Regions from separate parts of the Homo sapiens genome. Here regions 2 and 3 are each reported to be linked to region 1. The links are microRNA targets in miRTarBase. Many come from high-throughput screens and were not tested one by one. Region 1 holds a microRNA gene; each other region holds the end of a gene's coding sequence.
The links. Region 1 holds the annotated microRNA hsa-miR-937-5p (GUGAGUCAGGGUGGGGCUGG, at 4,315-4,334, shown strand). A microRNA usually pairs through its seed, bases 2 to 8, with sites in the 3' UTR of a target mRNA and lowers its output. Matches are read on the target gene's strand: a 7mer-m8 pairs with bases 2 to 8, a 7mer-A1 pairs with bases 2 to 7 and ends in A, and an 8mer does both.

Region 2: the mRNA of SEPHS1 is a reported target of hsa-miR-937-5p. The part of its 3' UTR that is shown has no 7-base or 8-base seed match.
Region 3: miRTarBase lists TMX4 as a target of hsa-miR-937-5p. Seed matches in the 3' UTR shown: 7mer-A1 at 5,770-5,776.

What each region holds. Positions count from the first base shown.
Region 1 is chr8:143,810,344-143,817,343 of GRCh38, reverse strand. MIR937 (microRNA 937) reads left to right here and starts at 4,302; the gene lies at 4,302-4,387. SCRIB (scribble planar cell polarity protein) reads left to right here and starts at 1,571. Exons shown (of 37, transcript NM_182706.5): 1 at 1,571-2,130; 2 at 3,226-3,343; 3 at 3,448-3,526; 4 at 3,618-3,707; 5 at 3,818-3,874; 6 at 3,970-4,033; 7 at 4,240-4,314; 8 at 4,383-4,527; 9 at 4,960-5,078; 10 at 5,999-6,198; 11 at 6,272-6,438; 12 at 6,528-6,658; 13 at 6,740-6,865. The coding sequence starts at 1,972. It overlaps PUF60 (poly(U) binding splicing factor 60), which reads left to right. Exons shown (of 12, transcript NM_078480.3): 10 at 1-13; 11 at 199-434; 12 at 525-1,000. The coding sequence ends at 824. RefSeq lists enhancers at 979-1,611, 1,612-2,244, 2,529-3,193.
Region 2 is chr10:13,312,849-13,320,005 of GRCh38, reverse strand. SEPHS1 (selenophosphate synthetase 1) reads left to right here. Exons shown (of 9, transcript NM_012247.5): 9 at 650-2,578. The coding sequence ends at 864. Among named protein-coding and RNA genes, the nearest start is that of PHYH, 16 kb to the right of the region's middle.
Region 3 is chr20:7,975,696-7,982,852 of GRCh38, forward strand. TMX4 (thioredoxin related transmembrane protein 4) reads right to left here. Exons shown (of 8, transcript NM_021156.4): 8 at 1,651-6,926. The coding sequence ends at 6,556. Among named protein-coding and RNA genes, the nearest start is that of HAO1, 39 kb to the left of the region's middle.

The sequences.
Region 1 (7,000 bases):
GGAGTCATCACAGGTGAGTCTTAAGTGGTACCAGATCCTCTCCTCTCCTGTCCTGGCATCTCTCGGCTCGCTGCCCTCAGCTGCCTGGCCCTGGTGGTCTGGGCACAACCCTCTGAGCCCAGGGCAGGCCAGCTCTGTGCCTTTCTGGGAAGGGGGGTGGTAGGGAGTGACTGATGGACCTGGTTGGTTTTCCTGCAGGTGTGACCCCAGCCCGTCCTCCTATCCCGGTCACCATCCCCTCGGTGGGAGTGGTGAACCCCATCCTGGCCAGCCCTCCAACGCTGGGTCTCCTGGAGCCCAAGAAGGAGAAGGAAGAAGAGGAGCTGTTTCCCGAGTCAGAGCGGCCAGAGATGCTGAGCGAGCAGGAGCACATGAGCATCTCGGGCAGTAGCGCCCGACACATGGTGATGCAGAAGCTGCTCCGCAAGCAGGAGGTAGGCAGAGGGGCAGGGTGGTGGCGGGGGAGAGGGTAGGGGGGCGGGGCCGCAGTGCTCAGCTGTCTTCCCCTCGGCCCTGCCCCACAGTCTACAGTGATGGTTCTGCGCAACATGGTGGACCCCAAGGACATCGATGATGACCTGGAAGGGGAGGTGACAGAGGAGTGTGGCAAGTTCGGGGCCGTGAACCGCGTCATCATCTACCAAGAGAAACAAGGCGAGGAGGAGGATGCAGAAATCATTGTCAAGATCTTTGTGGAGTTTTCCATAGCCTCTGAGACTCATAAGGCCATCCAGGCCCTCAATGGCCGCTGGTTTGCTGGCCGCAAGGTGGTGGCTGAAGTGTACGACCAGGAGCGTTTTGATAACAGTGACCTCTCTGCGTGACAGTGGTCCCTCTCCCCGGACTTGCACTTGTTCCTTGTTTCCTCTGGGTTTTATAGTGATACAGTGGTGTCCCCGGGGCCAGGCGCGCTCTGCCCAGCCCAGCCTACAGTGCGGATAAAGGTGCGGATGCTGCTGGCCCTGAACGTCCGTGTGTCTGCCGTCGGTCCTGTCACCGATCCTGGGCGTGTGTCCTTAGGGGGTCTAGGGCGAGGAGGCAGGGTTGGGGGGGTCTCTGGACCTGCTTCCTGTTGGCAGGAGGGGCCTGCCGTGGGCGAGACCTGGGCAGGGGGTTGGCGCCCCGGGCCCCGTCCCGCGGGTGGCGGCGGCTGGGTGGGCGGGGCTGCCTGGGGCGCCAGGCTCTCGCGCGCGGGCTCGCAGCCGTCCCCGCAGGGTGGTGCTGAGAGAAGGCTGGGCACCGGGACACCGCGACCCGCTGGACAGCGCGCGCTGCCAGTGCTTTTGTGCCGCAGAGCCGGCCGTCCAAGGCGGGCGGGCGGGCATGGTCGCTTCCCGGGAGGAGGCTGTGCGTTAAGATTCGTGGCCAAATGCCGCGGGGCCAGGGGCCGGGCTGAAGACCGGAGGGCGGAGGGCGCCGCCTCTCGTGGATTGTAGCTCCCAATATCCCGCGCGCGGGGCGGGCCCGGCTTCCCGGCACGCTTTGCGCGGTGCCGCTACGGGTCCTCAGAGGCGGCGGCGCGCGGGGCCTTCTGGGGGCCGCAGTCCGGGCGTGCTAGGCGGCGAGGGCCGGACTCGGCTTCCCGACGGGCTGCGCGGCGGCCGGGTGGGTGTCGGCGGGGCAGTCCGGCGGGCAGCGGCGGTTCCGGTGCGGCACAGCGGGCGGACGAGCGGGCGGGACGAGCTGAGCAGGACCAAGCGGGATGCGGAGCCGCCGCCGCCGCCGCTCCCCGCGCTTCCTAAGAGTCTGAGACCCGCCGGGCCGCGCCCCCTGCCCAGGCCCGCAGTCCGAGCGTTCCGAGCGCGGGCCGGGCCCAGCGCCGGCCGCGGCCGCGTCCCCGTCCAGTCTCGGGCGGCCCGCCCCCTGCCTGCGCCCCCTCCCCATGCGCGGCGCCCATGCGGACTGAGCCCCGCCCCCCGGCCCCGAGCCCGCCGAGCGCCGCCGCCGGAGCCCGCGCCGCCCACCCGCACCATGCTCAAGTGCATCCCGCTGTGGCGCTGCAACCGGCACGTGGAGTCGGTGGACAAGCGGCACTGTTCGCTGCAGGCCGTGCCGGAGGAGATCTACCGCTACAGCCGCAGCCTGGAGGAGCTGCTGCTCGACGCCAACCAGCTGCGCGAGCTGCCCAAGGTGAGCGGCCGCCCGCACCTGCCGCCCAAAGGCGCGCCCCCAGCCCGTGATTCCTCCGGCGGCAGAATCTGCCCGGGCGAGTCACCGCAGCCTCCAGCCGGCCCTGCTGGTTTGCACTGGCCAGGTCCCCACCCCAGCCAGCCCCACCCTTCTCTTCCAGCCGCCCTGGCTGGCGCAGGTGGCAGCGGTCATCAGGTGCTTGCCTGGGGATAGCGATTGTCACCGAGCCTGGAGGCGGAGCCTCAGAGTGAAACCCGTGGGGATTCAGGGAGGTGGATGGGGTTAGGGTGGAACTTGGATTCAGGTGGCTGATGAGTACTAGCTTCTTGGGCCGCTCTGGAGGTGGGTCCAGACCTCCTCTCCTTTTTTGCTGGGTGCAGGGGTGAGTGGGGGAGCCCTCTTGATGTACTCTTTGCTCTCGGATCTGTTCGCTGTCCCCCTTTCTTTACCCTTGCTTCTCGTGGTCAGGTGCTCTCCTAAGGCTGCTACAAGAAAGGAGGCTGGAGAAAGCAGATTAAAAAGTATTTCTTTTCTGGAGATGGGGTGCTGGGTGATCAGTACCTAGGGGTTGGGTGTCCCAAAGAATGTGACCCTGTTCTGGCCGTGGCAGTGACAGCTCGGTCCTCTGTGGCCACCTGCAGGCCTCGCGCGTAGCACTGTGCCTGTGGTACTGTGTTATTGTGGGGAGCGTTTACTGAGTTCTTGCTGCAGAACCAGGCCAGGCTTGTTGTCAGGATGCAGTAGCAGAGGCCAGTGTGGGCCCCTGGAGGGTGGCAGAAGTGGTTCAGGGGCTGGGTGGGCCCTGAGGTAAGACACAGGGTAGGGGATTGGGGCTTTGTCTGGTCGCCAGCAGGTGTCTTCTCAGAGTGGAGGCTGGTGTGAAGAGTAGAGGGAGGCAGCCACAGTGGGCGTGTGTACCGTGTGTTTCTTTCCTTTTTTTGCAAATGGGGTGTCGTGGTTAGACCCCAGGACCCGGTGTGACCTGGAGCAGACAGAGGCCTAGGGACTCTTGACTTGTGACACTCACGTGTCCAGGAGCTCTTCTCTGCTCTGCAGTGGTCTCTGCCACAGAGTCCGTGTCCTCCCTGCCCACAGCCTTTTTTCCGGCTGCTGAACTTGCGCAAGCTGGGCCTGAGCGACAACGAGATCCAGCGGTTGCCTCCCGAGGTGGCCAACTTCATGCAGCTGGTGGAGCTGGACGTGTCCCGGAACGGTGGGGAGCCTGGGCAGGGGCTGGGTGGGGTCTGGGGAGTGTCCGCTGGGGCTGCAGACGGCCTGCAGGCCATGGCATCTGTCCACTGTGACCCTCTGTGACAGATATCCCTGAGATCCCGGAGAGCATCAAGTTCTGCAAGGCTCTGGAGATCGCGGACTTCAGCGGGAACCCCCTCTCCAGGTGGGTGGCAGCCTGTGGTGGGGTCGGTAGGGGCTATGGGTCCCACAGCCCTGGACTGGTCATCCGAGGGCCTCTGCTTCCTCCCATCCAGGCTCCCTGATGGCTTCACTCAGCTGCGCAGCCTGGCTCACCTGGCCCTGAATGATGTGTCTCTGCAGGCACTGCCCGGGGACGTGGGCAAGTGAGTGCCTTCTCAGGTGGAACTAGGGTGGGGTGGGGGACCAGGATTGGCCCTGCCCCTGCTGCCACTGCTTTCCTTCCTCTTGCCCCAGCGCCTGGTCTCTCTTTCAGCCTCGCCAACCTGGTGACCCTGGAGCTCCGGGAGAACCTGCTCAAGTCCCTGCCAGCGTGAGTGTGACAGGCATTCTCCTAACAGCCAGGGCAGGGCCACAGCCCAGGGACCAGGGCTGCGTGGCCACACCTCCACCCTGCTTCCTCTGCAGGTCCCTGTCATTTCTGGTCAAGCTGGAACAGCTGGATCTGGGAGGCAACGATCTGGAAGTGCTGGTGCGTGGAGGCCTGACAGGGCAGAGACCGGAGGGCGGGCCACGGAAGCAAGGGCAAAGAAGGGGACAGCGAGCAGATCCGACAGCAAGGGGCACCTCGGGAGGGCAGGCGGGTGGGAGCTGGGTGTGGGGGCGTATAGTCTCTTGAGCACGGCGCAGCAGGAGGCTTTGCCTCATAGTCACTATTTTCTCTGTTCCTTCTTGCAGCCAGACACTCTGGGGGCTCTGCCCAATCTTCGGGAGCTGTGGCTTGACCGGAACCAGCTGTCAGCACTGCCCCCGGTGAGTCAGGGTGGGGCTGGCCCCCTGCTTCGTGCCCATCCGCGCTCTGACTCTCTGCCCACCTGCAGGAGCTCGGGAACCTGCGGCGCCTGGTGTGCCTGGACGTGTCGGAAAACCGGCTGGAGGAGCTGCCTGCTGAGCTCGGCGGGCTGGTGCTGCTCACTGACCTGCTGCTGTCCCAGAACCTGCTGCGGAGGCTGCCCGACGGCATCGGTTAGTGTGCCTGGGGGTGCCTGGGTGGGGCACACGGAGCCTGGCCCTGGGAGGAGCGTGGGGCGTCGGGGCTGTGTGTGGTGTGGAACACAGGGGAGGATCCTGAGTGTGCCCAGGCTCTGGGAGCTGTCCCTGGGGAGGGGAGGTGGGACCCTGGGGCAGCCCAGAAGGCTGAGGAGGCAGCTGGTGGTGCTGGAGGGGGCGGTGGAGTCTGTGAGGGCGGAAGGGTGGCAGTGCCACTGGGGCCTGGTGTTTTCTTGAAGGAGGTTGGGTCAGGCTTGTGGGGCAAGGTAGGTAGGGTCCTCCCGAAGTACGGCGGCGGCAGAAGGGGCTGGGGGCCTTGCTGTCTGCCTTGAGGGCGCTTCTGGCCAGGTGGGTAAGGCACGTCTGGGGACCATGCTCAGCCTTGTCCCCCTGTCTCCCCGACGCCAGGTCAGCTGAAGCAGCTATCCATCCTAAAGGTAGACCAGAATCGGCTGTGCGAGGTGACCGAGGCCATCGGGGACTGTGAGAACCTCTCTGAGCTGATCCTCACGGAGAACCTGCTGATGGTAGGGTCTGGCTTGGGAGGCAGAAAGGATGGGGCCGTCGGGGGTGCAGAACAAGGACAGGGCATCAGCCTGTGTCTGCTGCTGGGGGGTGCTGGTGGCAGCCTGACGTGGAGCCACTCAGGAAGGGCTCTTCTCTTGTCAGAGGGGGAGCATGCTGGCCGGAGGTGAGGCGGGGCAGTGAGGCCAGGGCAGGGGCCTTTGCCGTTTACCGTGAAGAATCTAGGTCTCGTGTTTATCGCTGTATGTTGTAACACTGGGGAGCGGTTACAGAAGAGGCAGGAATGGGAACTTATTTGTCTGTAGGGAAGACAGATGGAGAGCAGGCTGCTCCCCAGGGGCGTCTGCCTGCCCCTCACAAAGCAGGGCAAGCTGAGGCACCAGGCCACGGTTCGGGACGGTGGTGTTGCTATCCCCATCCCCAGGCTGGGAAACAGGAGCTAGCTGTGGGGAGGGTGTTCATGGGAGTTTCCGGGGGGGTTCCTCACTGGGGAGATGGAGAAAGGGACTCTGGGGTTCAGGGCCCTGGGAAGGGGCTGGCCCTGAGCAGGCAGGCTGGAACTGGGGGCCTGGGGAGCCCTAGGGATGACAGGGCAGACCAGTGGGGCACCAGACAGGCTCACAGGGCGCAGCCTCGCAGGTCAGTCCAGGGCACCCATGGGAGAGGGTCAGGGATGACCTGGTGGGGTGTTTTGGTGGTGGGGACTGAAGGCTGAGGGCAGTGGGCAGAGCTTGGGGAGCAGAGGGCACGAAGTGGGGTGGAGACAGCTTCTGTGGTCAGGTCCTTGTCCCGGTCTCCAGGGGCTGTGAGGGACCCTGGCTGGAGCTGGCCTGGGGTGTCTGTGCCCTCCTGCCAGGGGCTGTCATCTCCTTCCCACCCCCAGCAAGCCCCTAGCGTCCTCTGACCTCCTCTTCTTGGCCAGGCCCTGCCCCGCTCCCTGGGAAAGCTGACTAAGCTGACCAACCTCAACGTGGACCGGAACCACCTCGAGGCGCTGCCGCCCGAGATCGGGGGCTGTGTGGCACTCAGCGTCCTCTCCTTGAGGGACAACCGCCTGGCCGTCCTGCCACCAGAGCTGGCCCACACGACAGAGCTGCACGTGCTGGACGTGGCGGGGAACCGGTGAGTGCCAGCCTTGCCCTGCGGGCCTAACCGTGGCCCCAACGCCTGCTGACTGTGCCCGCCCGGCCCGCAGCCTGCAGAGTCTGCCGTTCGCGCTCACCCACCTCAATCTCAAGGCCCTGTGGCTGGCAGAGAACCAGGCGCAGCCCATGCTCCGGTTCCAGACGGAGGATGATGCCCGGACCGGCGAGAAGGTGCTCACCTGCTACTTGCTGCCCCAGCAGCCCCCACCCAGCCTCGGTAGGTTGTTGGCAACCGGTGCTTAGCGCGGGGTGGCTCTCAGGCAGGGTTTGGGGACTAGCCTGGGTCCTGACGCTCACCTGCTGCAGAGGATGCTGGGCAGCAGGGGAGCCTCTCGGAGACCTGGAGCGATGCCCCGCCGAGCCGCGTCAGCGTCATCCAGTTCCTGGAGGCCCCCATAGGTGATGAGGACGCTGAGGAAGCTGCAGCTGAGAAGCGGGTATGAGGGTGAGGATCTGGGGGGCGAACCTCTGCCTGACCCCTGCCCTGTGGCTGCTGCTCATCCTTGTCCCTACAACAGGGCCTACAGCGCCGGGCCACACCTCACCCCAGCGAGCTCAAGGTGATGAAGAGGAGCATCGAGGGGCGGCGGAGCGAGGCCTGCCCTTGCCAGCCAGACTCTGGGTCGCCCTTGCCTGCAGAGGAGGTGGGCATGGAGCCACGGCAACCTGGCGGGCCGCTGACCCGGGAGCTGTGGTGGTCCGGTCCATCCTGGGAGTGGGGCTGTGAGGGCCAGGGCAGCACAGAGAAGGAGCAGGAGATGAGGCTGGTGACAGGTTTC
Region 2 (7,157 bases), not on the chromosome of region 1:
GATGTAGAGAATCAAAAGTTCCCTTTTGTTTGTCAATATTTGTTTCAGTGTAGCTTGGAAAAAATAGCTACCACATGGGTTATTGAAGCCCCAAACACCTTACCCCTACACAGTGTTATGTGGTTCACGAATAGGTCATTTTCACAGTTGAAAGTTGGAGTGTATATGTGTGTGTGTTAGGAGTTTACTAGCAATTGCTTAATTACAGCATAGAACAGGCCTCTTAGGCTGGGAGTGGTGGTTCATTCCTGTAATCTCAGCACTTTGGGAGGCCAAGGCAGGTGGATTGCTTGAGTCCAGGAGTTTTAGACCAGCCTGGACAACACAGTGAAACCTTGTCTCTACAGAAAATTAGCCAGGTGTGGTGGTGCACACTTGTAATCACAGCTACTGGGAAAGCTGAAGTGGGAGGGTCACCTGAGCCAGGACATTGAGGCTGCAGTGAGCTGTGATTGTACCACTGCACTCCAGCTTGGGCCACAGAGTGAGACCCTGTCTCAAAAAAAAGCTGCTTAGTTGAATGGGAAGAGCTACTTGCATATAGGTGGCAGCAAGTTGTTGATGGAAGTTGGATCTCTGCAGAAGCAGCAGAGGCAGAGAAGCTGCTGTCATGTCAACACTAACAGTCATTCTTGTTTTCTTTTGCCAGGCGGCCTTCTGATCTGTTTACCACGTGAGCAAGCAGCTCGGTTCTGTGCAGAGATAAAGTCCCCCAAATATGGTGAAGGCCACCAAGCATGGATTATTGGGATTGTAGAGAAGGGCAACCGCACAGCCAGAATCATAGACAAACCCCGGATCATCGAGGTCGCACCACAAGTGGCCACTCAAAATGTGAATCCCACACCCGGGGCCACCTCTTAATCTAGACAGAAATAGCTGTTTGGTTTTGTTTTTAAATAGATCTATTTCCCTTATCACTTCAATTAAAGACTATAAACAACAAAAATCTCATTGTGTCTACACATCGGGGTGACCTTAGGTCGGTTTGTAAGTGGATACAATTAATAAAATAAAATCCATTGCCTTTTTTTCCTGTTACATTAACTGAAGATGCACCTAATCTTGAGGCAGCTTCTGAGTTGAGAATTATATTGTTATCCAATACTGTTGATTCATTTTGAATCTTTAGACACTTATCTCTTGCCGCATAGGCTTTTTAAAGGTGCTTTCACATAGCACAGGCATTACCCGTAGTCGTGTCAAATAGCAGTTGGTGTCTTCATTTTATGTATATTTATCATATAAGTCTGATTTTTTTTTTTAAGCGTCTTGAATGGTTTTCTGGAGAGACAGCATTGGTAAGTGGCACATGACGGTATCCCAGTCATAAGAGGGTTGCATGATTCCTTTGAGTGTTTGATTTGAAAAGCCTAGTCTTGTCTCTCAAGAGCATCTCGGACCCAGAACATTCTCCAGTAGTGCATTCAGTTCAACACAGCAAGTGCTTCATTGCATGGAAAACACTTTGAAGACAAAAAAGAAATCTTATTTCTTTTTTTGTAGCCTTCCTGATATTTACAGTAATACCATTAACTGTTTTATCGATAGCAAAAAAGGATACTTTTTGCAATGTTATTAGATGTTCTATAGTGCTACAAGGAATTGCCTTCCGAATGGAGGTTCATGTATAATACTCATTTACAATTCAATATATAATTACACAAATAATTTTTAAATATAATCAATAGTAAAGACTGTTCTGTGGATGGTAGTGTTTAATACATTTTCTATTTTGTACAGTGATTTCAGGCCTTTTGTTTTCTTAAAATCAGCAGCTGTTTGGCCTAATTCTTAGCATTATTTTGTCCTTTGCGCCAGTACTTTTTTGTGCACGCTTTTTGTGATCTGTGTTAAAAACCTGCATTGCCAACATTGCAGCTCGAACTTAAACTTGTTATTCAAATAAATATTTAATTTTTTAAATTGCTCTTGTATAATCAGATGCCCCTTTTAGTATTATTTTAGAAGCGTTGGGAGGGTTTTGCCTAAAGTACAATTTATCGGGAAAAACTAGATTTTAGTTTTATAAAACTTTTAAGTCTTTCATGGGACCTATATTTTCTTGAATTAAATTTTGTAGTTCTAGAATAAATAGGCAATCTAAAAAGGTGTTCTCTGTGTTATGTAAAGTGGAGGCTTCCTTATATTTTAACCTACTAAGCAATGAGGAGGGATTCCTGTCATTAAGCACAAGGGCGCTGGATCCTCAAGTGCCCATCTTCGTGAGAGAAAAAGCAGCACATCCTGCCCATTTCTGGTGCTTTCTGCTCACAGGCACCAAAGCTGCACATGTAAACTGACTTCTTGCCAAAGGAAATGACCCCTGGGAAGTTCAAGCTCCTGGAAGAGGCTTTAACTCGGACGCGCCCTCCTCCAGGAACCAGTGGGCAGGGCAGCCTTCATGCATGTGTAACTGGACCTCCAGCCATAAGCATGGTGTGCAGTATGGAAGAGCCTGCTACGGAACTGAAAGTGATTGGACATTTTATAGGAATTGATAGAGATGTTGGTCCTCAAAAGCTACAAACCAGTGGTCTGCAAAATAAAGTGTGTTGGAAACCTCTAGTGAGATAAACCTACTGTTGAGCTTTTTTTTTTTTTTTTTTTTAAATAACGATGACTGAACTTCAGTGTAGCCTGTGCCGTGAGAGCTGGTGTTTTCCTCAGTGGCAGGCCTATTGAGAGGAGGGAGCTAAGTGGAGTATGTACTTAAGGAAATAATATTTGTGAAGATTGATATTTATAAAGAGAAAATGTTGGGTACTTAGAGGTCCGTGTAAGTCTTATGATCCCAAGAGGAAGAATTTGTATTTAAAGCAGTGTTGGCTGGGCATGGTGGCTCACACCTGTAATATCAGCACTGTGGGAGGCCGAGGTGGGCAGATGACCAGAGGTCCAGAGTTCAAGACCAGACTTGCCAACATGGTGAAATCCTGTCTTTACTAAAAATACAAAAATTAGCTGGGTTTGGTGGCGCACACCTGTATTCCCAGCTACTGGGTAGGCTGAGGCACAAGAATCGCTTGAAGCCGGGAGATAGAAGTTGCAGTGAGCAACCTGCCATCACACCACTGCACTCCAGCTTGGGCGACAGAGACTCAGTCTCAAGAAACAGACTCAAGTCTCAACAAGCAAACAAAAACCAGTATTGTATAGTGGCCCAGATTCACCTGTGTTAGAATCACCCGGGGTGTTAGAAGGCAACATTCCTGCCCCTGATTTTCCAGATTCACAGAATCAGAATTTCTGGGGTGTGGGACTTTGGGAATATCTTAAATAAGGACCCTATGGGGCTATGGCCAAAAAAGTTTCAGAACCATGGGTGCAGCACACCAACATGGCACATGTATACATATGTAACAAACCTGCACGTTGTGCACATGTACCCTAAAACTTAAAGTATAATTTAAAAAAAAAACTGATCTCAAAAGGAATGTTGCAGAGGAAGGCAGGGAAAGTAAGAGGACCTGGTTTTGCAACTTTTTTTTTTTTTTTTTTTTTGAGGCGGAGTCTCTCTATCAGCCAGGCTGGAGTGCAGTGGTGCGATCTCAGCTCACTGCAACCTCTGTCTCCCAGGTTCCAGTGATTCTCCCGCCTCAGCCTCCCGAGTAGCTGGGATTACAGGCGCATGCCACCAAGCCTGACTGATTTTTGTATTTTTAGTAGAGACAGGGTTTTGCCATGTTGGTCTCGAACTGAGCTCAAACGATCCGCCTGCCTTGGCCTCCCAAAGTGCTGGGATCACAGGTGTGAGCCACCATGCCCAGCCTTTTGCAACATATTTTGCAGGAATTTTTTCCTCGACCATTCTCTTACCGACCATTCCGACCAAATCTTGACCATTCTGTTTACTTCCCACATCTGAGCTACGGCCCAGCAAGGCAGCAGAAAGACCTGTATTTTGAAAGCTCCACGAAGACTCAAATGATTGTCACTGAATATTGGAGTTCTTGGCAAAATCTATGTAGAACATTTTAAAAGTCAGTGGACAGGCCAGACATGGTGGCTCACGTCTATAATCCTAGCACTTTGGGAAGCTGAGACAGGAGGATCACTTGAGCACAGGAGTTCGAGACCAGCCTAAGCAACATAGTGAGACCTCGTCTCTACAAAAAATAAAATTTAAAAAGTGAGTGGAGAGTAAGTAGTCGATTTGACTTTCTGGTAGCACTTTAAAACTTCACACTGAAGTGTATTTATCTTGGTATACTGATTTGTTTTCTGTAAATCATATAGTATAGTTGCATCCAAAAATACAGTCTGTTAGAATGCATAGAATTAGTGAATACAACCTGAGGCAGCTGGATCATGGTGGAGTCAGTCATTCAGGCACTAGGAATAATCTGAAGGAATATTGAAGCTGCTTATTTGCACAGGCTGTGTTGAGGTATTTATTGTGTTTCAGTCCAAGAAAAATTGAAATATTGTATAAGCAATATGTACTTTTTGGCTCAGTCTTTAAAAATAGTAGATTATAGTCTTCCAAGTTCTGCATGCTTTATAATGAATAAATGTGTTTCAAATTGTTCTGTTTATAGATGAATGAGCCAGGCATTTTCAGTCTGAATTTAGCATTCCCTTTAAAAGAGTTATATCTGAGTTCTCAATCTTAGTTTTAATTGTATAGAGACCAGAATAGCTATACTGTGCTGCACTTTATTTTTAGGTAATAGAGCAAGCGTAGTCATCGACGCTTCAGATACCAGTCGTGTCCGTGTGTGTGTTTTTGTGTATATTTGTTTGTATATATCCTTGAGTTGCTCACTTCCACACCCAGCCCACCCTTTCCTCTAGCTTAGGCAGTGGTTGCATAGACAACATAATTTACTTTGAACAGTAATTTGTAAATTTTTCTCATTAAGAATCCGCATATGAATTATAGTCATTACATATGCCAAGGGGCACAGTGAAAATCACCAATGTCCTGTTAAAAGTGAAGCCTGGGAATATCCTGTTATCTATGCTGAAATCTCTGTGTCTTGAATGAGGATGGGAGTGGATGGATTACACAAGGTCTTCATTCGGTAAAGCAGTAGGTGAGACGGTGCTCCCATAGGCATCTAGACTGGTTCTGGAATTGCCTGGAATCCAAGCCTGCTGCCAATGCCAAATGCTTTGATTTGTCTGTGAATTCAGGGTAAGGAAGGTGCTGTAAGTTTCCCTACGTTTCACAGTCCTTAAATATGACATCCAGCACTGAACACACAGTTGATGCTTTCCATGGTTTTTGTCCTTTCTAAGTCCTGTTGCTTTCAGAGGGAGTTTTATGCTTAGGAGAAACTGCATGTAATGAAGCCTATCAAAGCTTCATAGAAACAGAAAAGACCATGTGCGGTGGCTCACGCCTGTAATCCCAGCACTTTGGGGGGCCGAGGTGGGCGGATCACCTGAAGTCAGAAGTTCGAGACCAGCCTCAACATGGAGAAACCCCATCTCTGCTAAAAAAAAAAAAAAAAAAAAAGAAAATACAAAATTAGCCAGGCATGGTGGTGCATGCCTGTAATCCCAGCTACTCGGGAGGCTGCGGCAGGAGAATTGCTTGAACCTGGGAGGCGGAGGTTGTGCCGAGCTGAGATTGCGCCATTGCACTCCAGCCTGGGCAACAAGAGCGAAACTCCGTCTCAAAACAAACAAACAAACAAACAAACAAACAAAAACAGAAAACTCACTCTATTAGTGATCTGATTGCAGAAAAGCCAGTGTGTTTTCTACTATTATATTTTTAGAACAAGCATAGGCCCGTAGAAAATTATAAGGGCCTGGCTGGGCACAGTGGCTCACGCCTGTCATCCCAGCACTTTGGGAGGCCGAGGCTGGCAGATCCCGAGGTCAGCAGTTCGAGACCAACCTTACCAACATGGTGAAACCCTGTCTGTACTAAAAATACAAAAATTATCCGGGTGTGGTGGTGCGCACCTATAATCCCAGCTACTCGGGAGGCTGGGGCAGGAGAATCGCTTGAACCCGGGAGCCAGAGGTTGCAGTGAGCCAAGATCGTGCCATTGCACTCCAGCATGGGTGACAGAGCGAGACTTTGTCTCAAAAAAAAAAAAACAGAAAAGAAAAAAACGAGGCCGGGCGCGGTGGCTCACGCTTGTAATCCCAGCACTCTGGGAGGCCGAGGCGGCGGATCACAAAGTCAGGAGATCGAGACCACGGTGAAACCCCGTCTCTACTAAAAATACAAAAAATTAGCCGGGCATGGTGGCGGGTGCCTGTAATCCCAGCTACTCGGAGAGGCTGAGGCAGGAGAATGGCTTGAACCTGGGAGGCGGAGCTTGCAGTGAGTCGAGATCGTGCCACTGCACTCCAGCCTGGGCGACAGAGCGAGACTCCATCTCAAAAAAAAAAAATTAAAACGGCCTATAAAATGTTAACGTTGATCATTACCCAGTATCCAGTCCTATATGTTGCTTAATTCTTTTTTTTTTTTTTTCTTTTTTTTTTTAGGCAGAGTCTCACTCTGTCACCCAGGCTGGAGTGCAGTGGCGTGATCTCCGCTCACTACAAGCTCCGCCTCCCAGGTTCAAGCCATTCTCCCGCCTCAGCCTCCCAAGTAGTTGGGATTACAGGCACCTCCCACCATGCCCGGCTAATTTTTGTATTTTTAGTAGAGATGGGGTTTCACCATGTTGGGCAGGCTGATCTCGAACTCCTGACCTCAAGTGATGGGGGTCACTCAGCCTCCCAAAGTGCCGGGATTACAGGCATGAGCCACCGCACCTGGCTGGCATATCTCTTTCTTACTACATCCAGGAAACGTTTCTCCATTTTCAGGACTCATGATTGCAGTGGGCTCACCCAGATAATACGGGGTGATCCCCCTATCAAAGTCCTTAACGTTAATCACATTTGGAAAATCCCTTTTGCCAGGTAAGGTAACAGCCACAGATTCCAGGGATTAGGGCGTGAACATCTTTGGGGAGGACCGTTATTCTCCCCACCACAAGGCCGTATACCCACGGGGTAGCTTCTTCACCAGGGGAGAGATTTTTGCAGCCATGAAGCAAAGCTGTTGCCTCAAACATGGTATTTTTAAAATCAGTGAACAAGAATTGCTTACACAGCCATACCAAGCGGGGGCCAGCAGGGTGGCAGGTCTGTTCACCACTAGCTACCAAGCTTTGTGCACAAAGCAAACGTGGGCCACTAGA
Region 3 (7,157 bases), not on the chromosome of region 1:
TTGTAACTCTTTTCCTGCTAATATTCACCTTCCCAAGTAAAATACAAACTCCATGAAATGACAATTCTCAGTTTGAAAACTCTGGTACCTTGAAGAGCCACAGTGGTCAAGTCCAGCAGGAAGACCTCCAGCACTGGGGCCATATGTACTCTGCCCTCTCCTGCCATATGTGCATTCATACTATGTCCCAGGAGCTTACTCTATAGAAGGTCCTAGGCTCACAAAGGTGGGCAAGAAAAAGTCACTGTGGCAAGAGATTGCTAGCTCTCAAGTTCCCTTTGTTCTTAAGCACACAGCAAGATTACACATCCTAGTCTTCCTTTAAGTTAGGTATGACCCTGTGACTAAGTCCTCTCACAGGAAATGTGAACATAAATGATGCACGTGTGGCAGCCTCGCTTTAAAATCTCTCAGCAATGTTCCTCCATCTCTTACTCCTCTGACTGACTGGGATGGAAATGATCACAGCCACCTTAGCAGCCACGTTTTTTTGGTTGTTTGTTTTGAGATGGAGTCTCGCACTGTTGCCAAGGCTGGAGTGCAAAGGCATGATCTCGGCTCACTGTAATCTCTGCCTCCCGAGTTCAATTAATTCTCCTGCCTCAGCCTCCTGAGTAGCTGGGATTATACGCACCTGCCATTACGCCTGGCTTATTTTTGTATTTTTAGTAGAGACAGGGTTTCGCCATGTTACTAAGGCTGGTCTCAAACTCTTGATCTCAGGTGATCCACCTCCCTCGGCCTCCCAAAGTGCTGGGATTACAGGCGTGAGCCACCATGCCCGGCCCAGCAGCCACATGTTAAACAGCAAAGCCTCCCTTGACCTTGAGGCCCAGAAAAACCTGCATGGGACAGAGCCTGCCTGGGATGCCTGGCCTGGGCTATGTGAATCAGTAATACAATTCTTGTTCTTAAAGCCCCCGAGATTTGCGGGTCTGTTAGCACAGGCTGGACTGTCGTAATACAGTTATCAATCTCAAGAAGCTCACATGTTCCAAGAAAGAATTTCTATTACTGTGAAATATGTTCCAAAGAGCATTCAAGACTAGAGCAAAGCAGGGGGTTAAATTTGTAATTCAGTGTTGTTGGCTTGAAAGCTGCATTTTGCTATAGGCAAGGATGAATAACCAAAGTCATCTAGGCAGACAGCACGACAGACATTTTTCTCTGTATAGGCAAATAAGCATTCTGAGCCAGTATCTCTGAGGGAGGGCCTTGGTGGTATGCAGGTTTAGTAACTGTCTTCTCACTACACACATCCCCCACCATCTTCCAAAAGACAAAAATCCAATCTCCATTGTTTCAGTCTCTGAGGGTGTTTCAAGGACCCACCTTACCACCTTGATGCTTTTCCACTATAGTGGTGGGGAGAGTTAGGTGTAGAAGGGAGTTTTCTGAAAGCCCCAAAGACAAGACCAATCCACAGTGTCTTGGGGGATTAGTAGCATCCCTTGCCATCTGGCTACCCCAAGACCTCAGGACAGAGGGAGACCCCAGAGGTTTCTGATGGCAACACACTGGCTGGAAGAGCCTTGGATCTTTGGACCCTGCCTTGGTTTTGTGCACTTTCCAGAGCAACTAAAGGGCACATGGTCTGAGTTTCACCGAGTCAGGAAGGGAGAAAGAGAGAGAATGAATGAACAGACTAGATGGAGGATGGACACGAAGGAAAATTTTTTTTAACAAATTAATATTTTTTGCTGCCTAGGCAAATGGCTTTTGTGAAAACACTTGTATGAAAAGCAATACACCATTTGTTTTTACTTACCAATCACTATCATTAGGTTTTGATGCAAATGGGAATTTACAATAAAATGAAACAAATAGGATCAGGGATTATATACAATACTGTGATCAAGTGATTTGTGATTCAGGCAATGTACTACTTGAAACACATATCTGGATTTCTCATTCCAATTGCTGCAGATGCTATTTGAGGAAGCAAAGAATACAGAAAGAAAAATAATTAGGTTCATTAGGCTAAGACTAATACCAGTAATATAAACAACAAATTTATAACATATTGCATTGCAAATAAGCAATGTTTTTAGTATAAAAATTGCATTTCCACAAAGAAGCTAATAACAAATACGATTAAACCACTTCAGAAACACGTCAAAGTTGTACGAGTCACACATATACAGTGTCACAGTCTACATAAAGCTTTACTGAGAATAAGCCATCTGAAGGGCATGTCCCGGGCTGAAGCGATCAAAGGGCTTTTCAACTGAAGTTCTTACTTCCAGAAAGCTGTTCAAAAAGCTGCCCCATCAGGTTCAGCAGGCTTGATGACTCCAAATTTGGCTTTTTAAGACAAGCTAAAATCTCCTCCAGAGAATCAAAATGTAGGACTGAGGTAAAGAGATATTAAACAAGAAGGAACTTTTCTGTTGGCATAAGAGATTTGAATGAATTCTTTCGAAAATGTTGGTACATTTGACAGGATGGGTCAACCACATATTCATAATACTGACAGAAATAACACTGTAACACCAAGATGAGGGACACAGATAACCTATTGATACGAGCAACAGAACCAGCCTCCCTCTTCTTTCTCTCACTTCATACTAAAGATTTTATGCTGAAATCTCAGGTTTGCCGTAACTTTTCCACCTTTTTTTAAAATTTATTTTTCTCTGGACTTCTAATGTTTCCATCCTATGAAACAACATACCAGCTCCACTACTGATGCATTTGGTAATAAAAAGTCACATGGTAAGTATTTGCCTTAAAAATGACTTTTATCGTCTACCCCAAAGGTGTTTTTACAGGATGCAGGTTCTGTAGACTGACATATTCCCAAATCATATTAGAACATCACAGCTGTCAACAAGGAATTTTGGCCATAAAAAGTCAAATTTTGTTTTTTTTCCACTATCAAAAGCCAACTCAGCTGAAGCTTATCTATTTTCTACTACAGTAGTTATTTTGAATGTATAGAGCTAAAGAGGCCTGTGGCTAACAGACAGGGATTCCATGCACAAGAGCTTTTAAGTATGTGCCCATGCAGTGCAAGGCCCTGTGAACCCAACAGGCCCTGTCCCTCATCCCATCCAATGACTATACTTCAAAGGGAAAGAAAGATGTGGATTGCCTGTATGTTGCTTCAATATGAGATCTCTGAGCAAGCTGGGTTGGTTTAGCAGATCTAGCAAGAGACAAATAATAAGAGAAACCAACATAAAGGTAATCAGAAGTTTCAAACTTTCCTTCTAATTGATGAAAAGATACCCTGCTCCAACTCCCCAAACATAAAGCACTGCACATTCCCATTCCAAAACCAGTTACCTGCATTGCATTCACCTAATTTTAATTTACATAAAATACCATTCTGTGACTAAATAACTGATACTGCAATAGAGGGAAGCATGATTTTAATTTTTTTTTTTTTTAGATTTTAAAAATCAAAATCATGTTTCCATGCACTTGAGTTCCGGATCAAATATATTATCTACAGAAAAAATCCACAAACTCTTATCGAAATGTTCATATAAAGTTTAAATTATTTCAGGTTGGCTTTTCTCCTTTAGTTTTATATTCATTAAGTATTGAAAACAAACCTAAAATCTTCAAGTGGAAAGATATTAAATTAAATTTTGTTGGAAAAAAACCCATCTTTGCCATGATGTTAAAAAAGGGAAAATCAGGAAAAATGGTTCCCACAGATATTTAAAGTTTTAATGGGTCCTCTTCTCCAAGATGTTTTTCTCCTCACCCTTCAATTTTTTTTAAAAGTATTTCTGAGAAAGAAAGTACATTTTCTGCCAGGTACGGTGGCTCACACCTGTAATCCCAGCACGTTGGGAGGCTGAGGCGGGCGGATCACCTGAGGTCAGGAGTTCAAGACCAGTCTGACCAACATGGCGAAACCCCGTCTCTACTAAAAATACAAAATTAGCCAGGCATGGTGGCACATGCCTGTAATCCCAGCTACCTGGGAGGCTGAGGCAGGAGAATCCCTTGAACTAGGGAGGCGGAGGTTGTAGTAAGCCAAGATTGTGCCATTGCAGCCTGGGCGACAACAAGAGTGAAACTCCATCTCAAAAAAAAAAAAAAAAGAAAATACATTTTTCTTATTATATAATTAGATATAGGTCAAATATCCCTTATCCAAAATGTGTGGGACCAGAAGTGTTTCAAATGTTTTTGGATTTGGGGATTTTTGTATATATATAATGAGGTATCTTGGGAGTAGACCCAAGTCTAAACACAAAATTCATTTGTTTTATATACACCTTATACAACATAGCTTGAAGGTAATTTTATCCAATATTTTTAATAATCTTGGGCATGGAACAAAGTTTTGATTGCACTGTAACTGCCACCTGTCAAATGAGGTCAGGTGTAAAATTTTCCACTTCTGACGGAATGCTGGAACTCAAAGTTTAAGATTTTGGAGCATTTGGGGTTTTGGATTGTTGGAACGGAATGTTCAACCTGTACTATTTGGGGTCCGGTTGGAAATTGGCTTTACATTTTTAAAAGCCAGTGTAGACTGTATTTCTGCCTTACCTTCTCTCTAGTCAAATACTCCACTAAAAAAATGAATATTTCAGTTTGAGAGGGAGGAATTATATAGAAAAGCCAAACTATGAAACCATTCTTATTCCATAATACCTCTGAACCTGAGTTTACTGTTCTTTGAGAACTCTGTTTCAGCTGATTATAAGAGAAAGAAATCCAGTGACACGAGGGCAGGCAGGCCCCGCTCTGCTCTGATCGAGAAAAGCTTCCTGATGTCAGGGAGATGGAACTGCCACCATCAGAACCATGGCACTTTGGGTGAAGGTGTGTCAGCGACCAAGGGGGCAGGAAATGGGCAGTGACTAAGGGGGCAGGAAACAGGCAGGCACATGGCAAGGTTCTCCCAGCCCATCAGCCCAGTGATGGCCTCGATTTTGAAGCTGCACTACTGTCTGAAAAGCACAATTACTGGTGACTCTTAACAAACTTCAGCATACTGGGGAAGGAGACTGTCAAGTAACTGAATTGGAAAGATGAAAAAGAACCATCTCTAAAAGTTGATGCTGTCAGAAGAATAACCTCCTTTGTGCAAGTCTTGCAACATCTTCATTCAACCACAGGAGGGCAGAGAGTTTCAGAACCTCCCCCACCAGTGAGCTCCGTGCTCACAATTAATACAAGGAAAGGGTTATCTAAACAGCCAGATAGAAATATACTGCACGTTCCTTTTTAAAGACGACAGAAACTTTTAGAATTTCATAAACCTGTACTCATTATTCTGTCTGGATCTAAGGAGCATAGAATCAACTTTAGGCATCTTTCGTATGCTTGGAATCGAATTTCATGAATTTATTCTAACACATAAATCAGGTAAGAGAGAAGTAGATGGATAGATTTTTTTTTTTTAAGGAAATTAGCCTCCCTGGGTACTTACAGTAGATTGAGTATTGAGAGATTTACAAAGATATAATTCTTTGGAAGATTACAGAAGATGGAAACAAAATCAAATCTTTCACTTTCAGGTACTGGAGTTCATTAATTCTTTCACCAAAAGCACATCACTGAAGGAAAATCAGAAGTGGTTTTTTAGTTATTATTAAAGTAGTTCAAGACCCAGGGAACCCCTTGAGATGAAAACAAAACAGTATTCAACTTTTCTTCACAAGACTACCTTGTACTGGCAAGACTTAGAGGACTTCTGGCTTGAAAAATATTGCTTAGAAAACTTAAAAAAAAATCAACAACAACTATATTTTGGACAAAACAATTTTTTTTTAATCTGTCTTGTAAAATCCTTACTTCCTTTTGAGTCTCTGATGGCCACAACATTTCATTTGAGATGTTTGGCAGTCACAGCTTCAGGGGTTATGGTTACTGATTATCTAAACCCCTTAGGTCAGAATGAACAAACACAGTTCATGTAAACCTGGCTGTTATTGGAGTCCTCTGACCAAGAGATAATAGTGAAGAGTGTGGAGAGCCTGAATGCCCATGGTGGAAATGCTGGAAAAATTAAAGGTAAGAAATAAAACATAGCACAGGAGATTCAGAGGGCTGGGATGACTTCTGAGCTGCTCTCTATACCCAAGGCCCTTTCAATTTCTAGCTGTGAAAGATTTTTCATGCACTGTGGTGCCTGATGTTTCCTGCAATTTGACAAAAATAAATACTTTACACAAGAAAAGGATGCAAGGCTTCTACGTTACACTTTGGGGATGCTCAGGAGCCAAGGCTCCTGCTTGGCTTTCATTTCACAGGGCCTGCAGCCTTGTCTCTGGAAGGTGCTGATTAGGACTGGGAATGGCCTCCTCTGGTCGAGACTCTCTGACCCCTAAGTAAATGAACTTGTTCCCATCCCAGTCTCCAAACAGATCCCAACACTACGTTTGTTTTTCTATATCCTGATTGTCACACCTGGAAGACTCTCCTTAGTATACATGAGGCTTACTGCCATGAGACCAAATGACTAGAGAGCATCTTTTAAGAGAAGCTTGCTCATTCAGGAAAAATTAAGGATTTGGTACAAACTGCAGGCCAAAGGGAAGCTGACATATTGTTTTGGTGTGTATTCTTGAAAACGCATCATTAAATCTACAGTCCCTTGTCAGCATGCTGACTTTTACGCTGCCTCAAGGAGTCTTCCACCACCTCTGTGTCAGCTGGGCAGGGTTGCTCAGAGATGCCTTCTTCAGCCTCCTCAGGCTCTACTTCCTCCCGGGTCACACCGTCCTCTCCTGGGGGCCCCTGATCATTGGCCTCACTTCTCTCCTCATCCACACCAGCAGCCAAGTTGTCCTCCTCCTCTTCTTCCTCTGCTTCATCCTCATCGCCAAGATCTTCTTTCTCTTCTTCATCATCTACAAGGCTGTCTTTGTTTTCTTCTTCATTTGAATCATCTTTTTCCTCCTCCGCATCCTGCAACTGTTCAGCTCTATGAGCCTCCTCTGATCTCCGATTCTGCTCTATGGAGGGAAGAAAGAGGAATATCCTCTGAATAAACAATGGTAATTCGGTAATCAATTGAGTGTGTTTAGCTGTGAAATAAAAATAGAGGGTAAGTGACAGTTTTTTCTATCTTGAAACTATGGTCATATAGGACAGATTCTCTGGTTGGCATCCTAGCCCCATTTAGGGCTTCTCCACCTGTCTCTGGAGATTTCATGGACCATAATGACTTCAGCAGGGCATGTGGG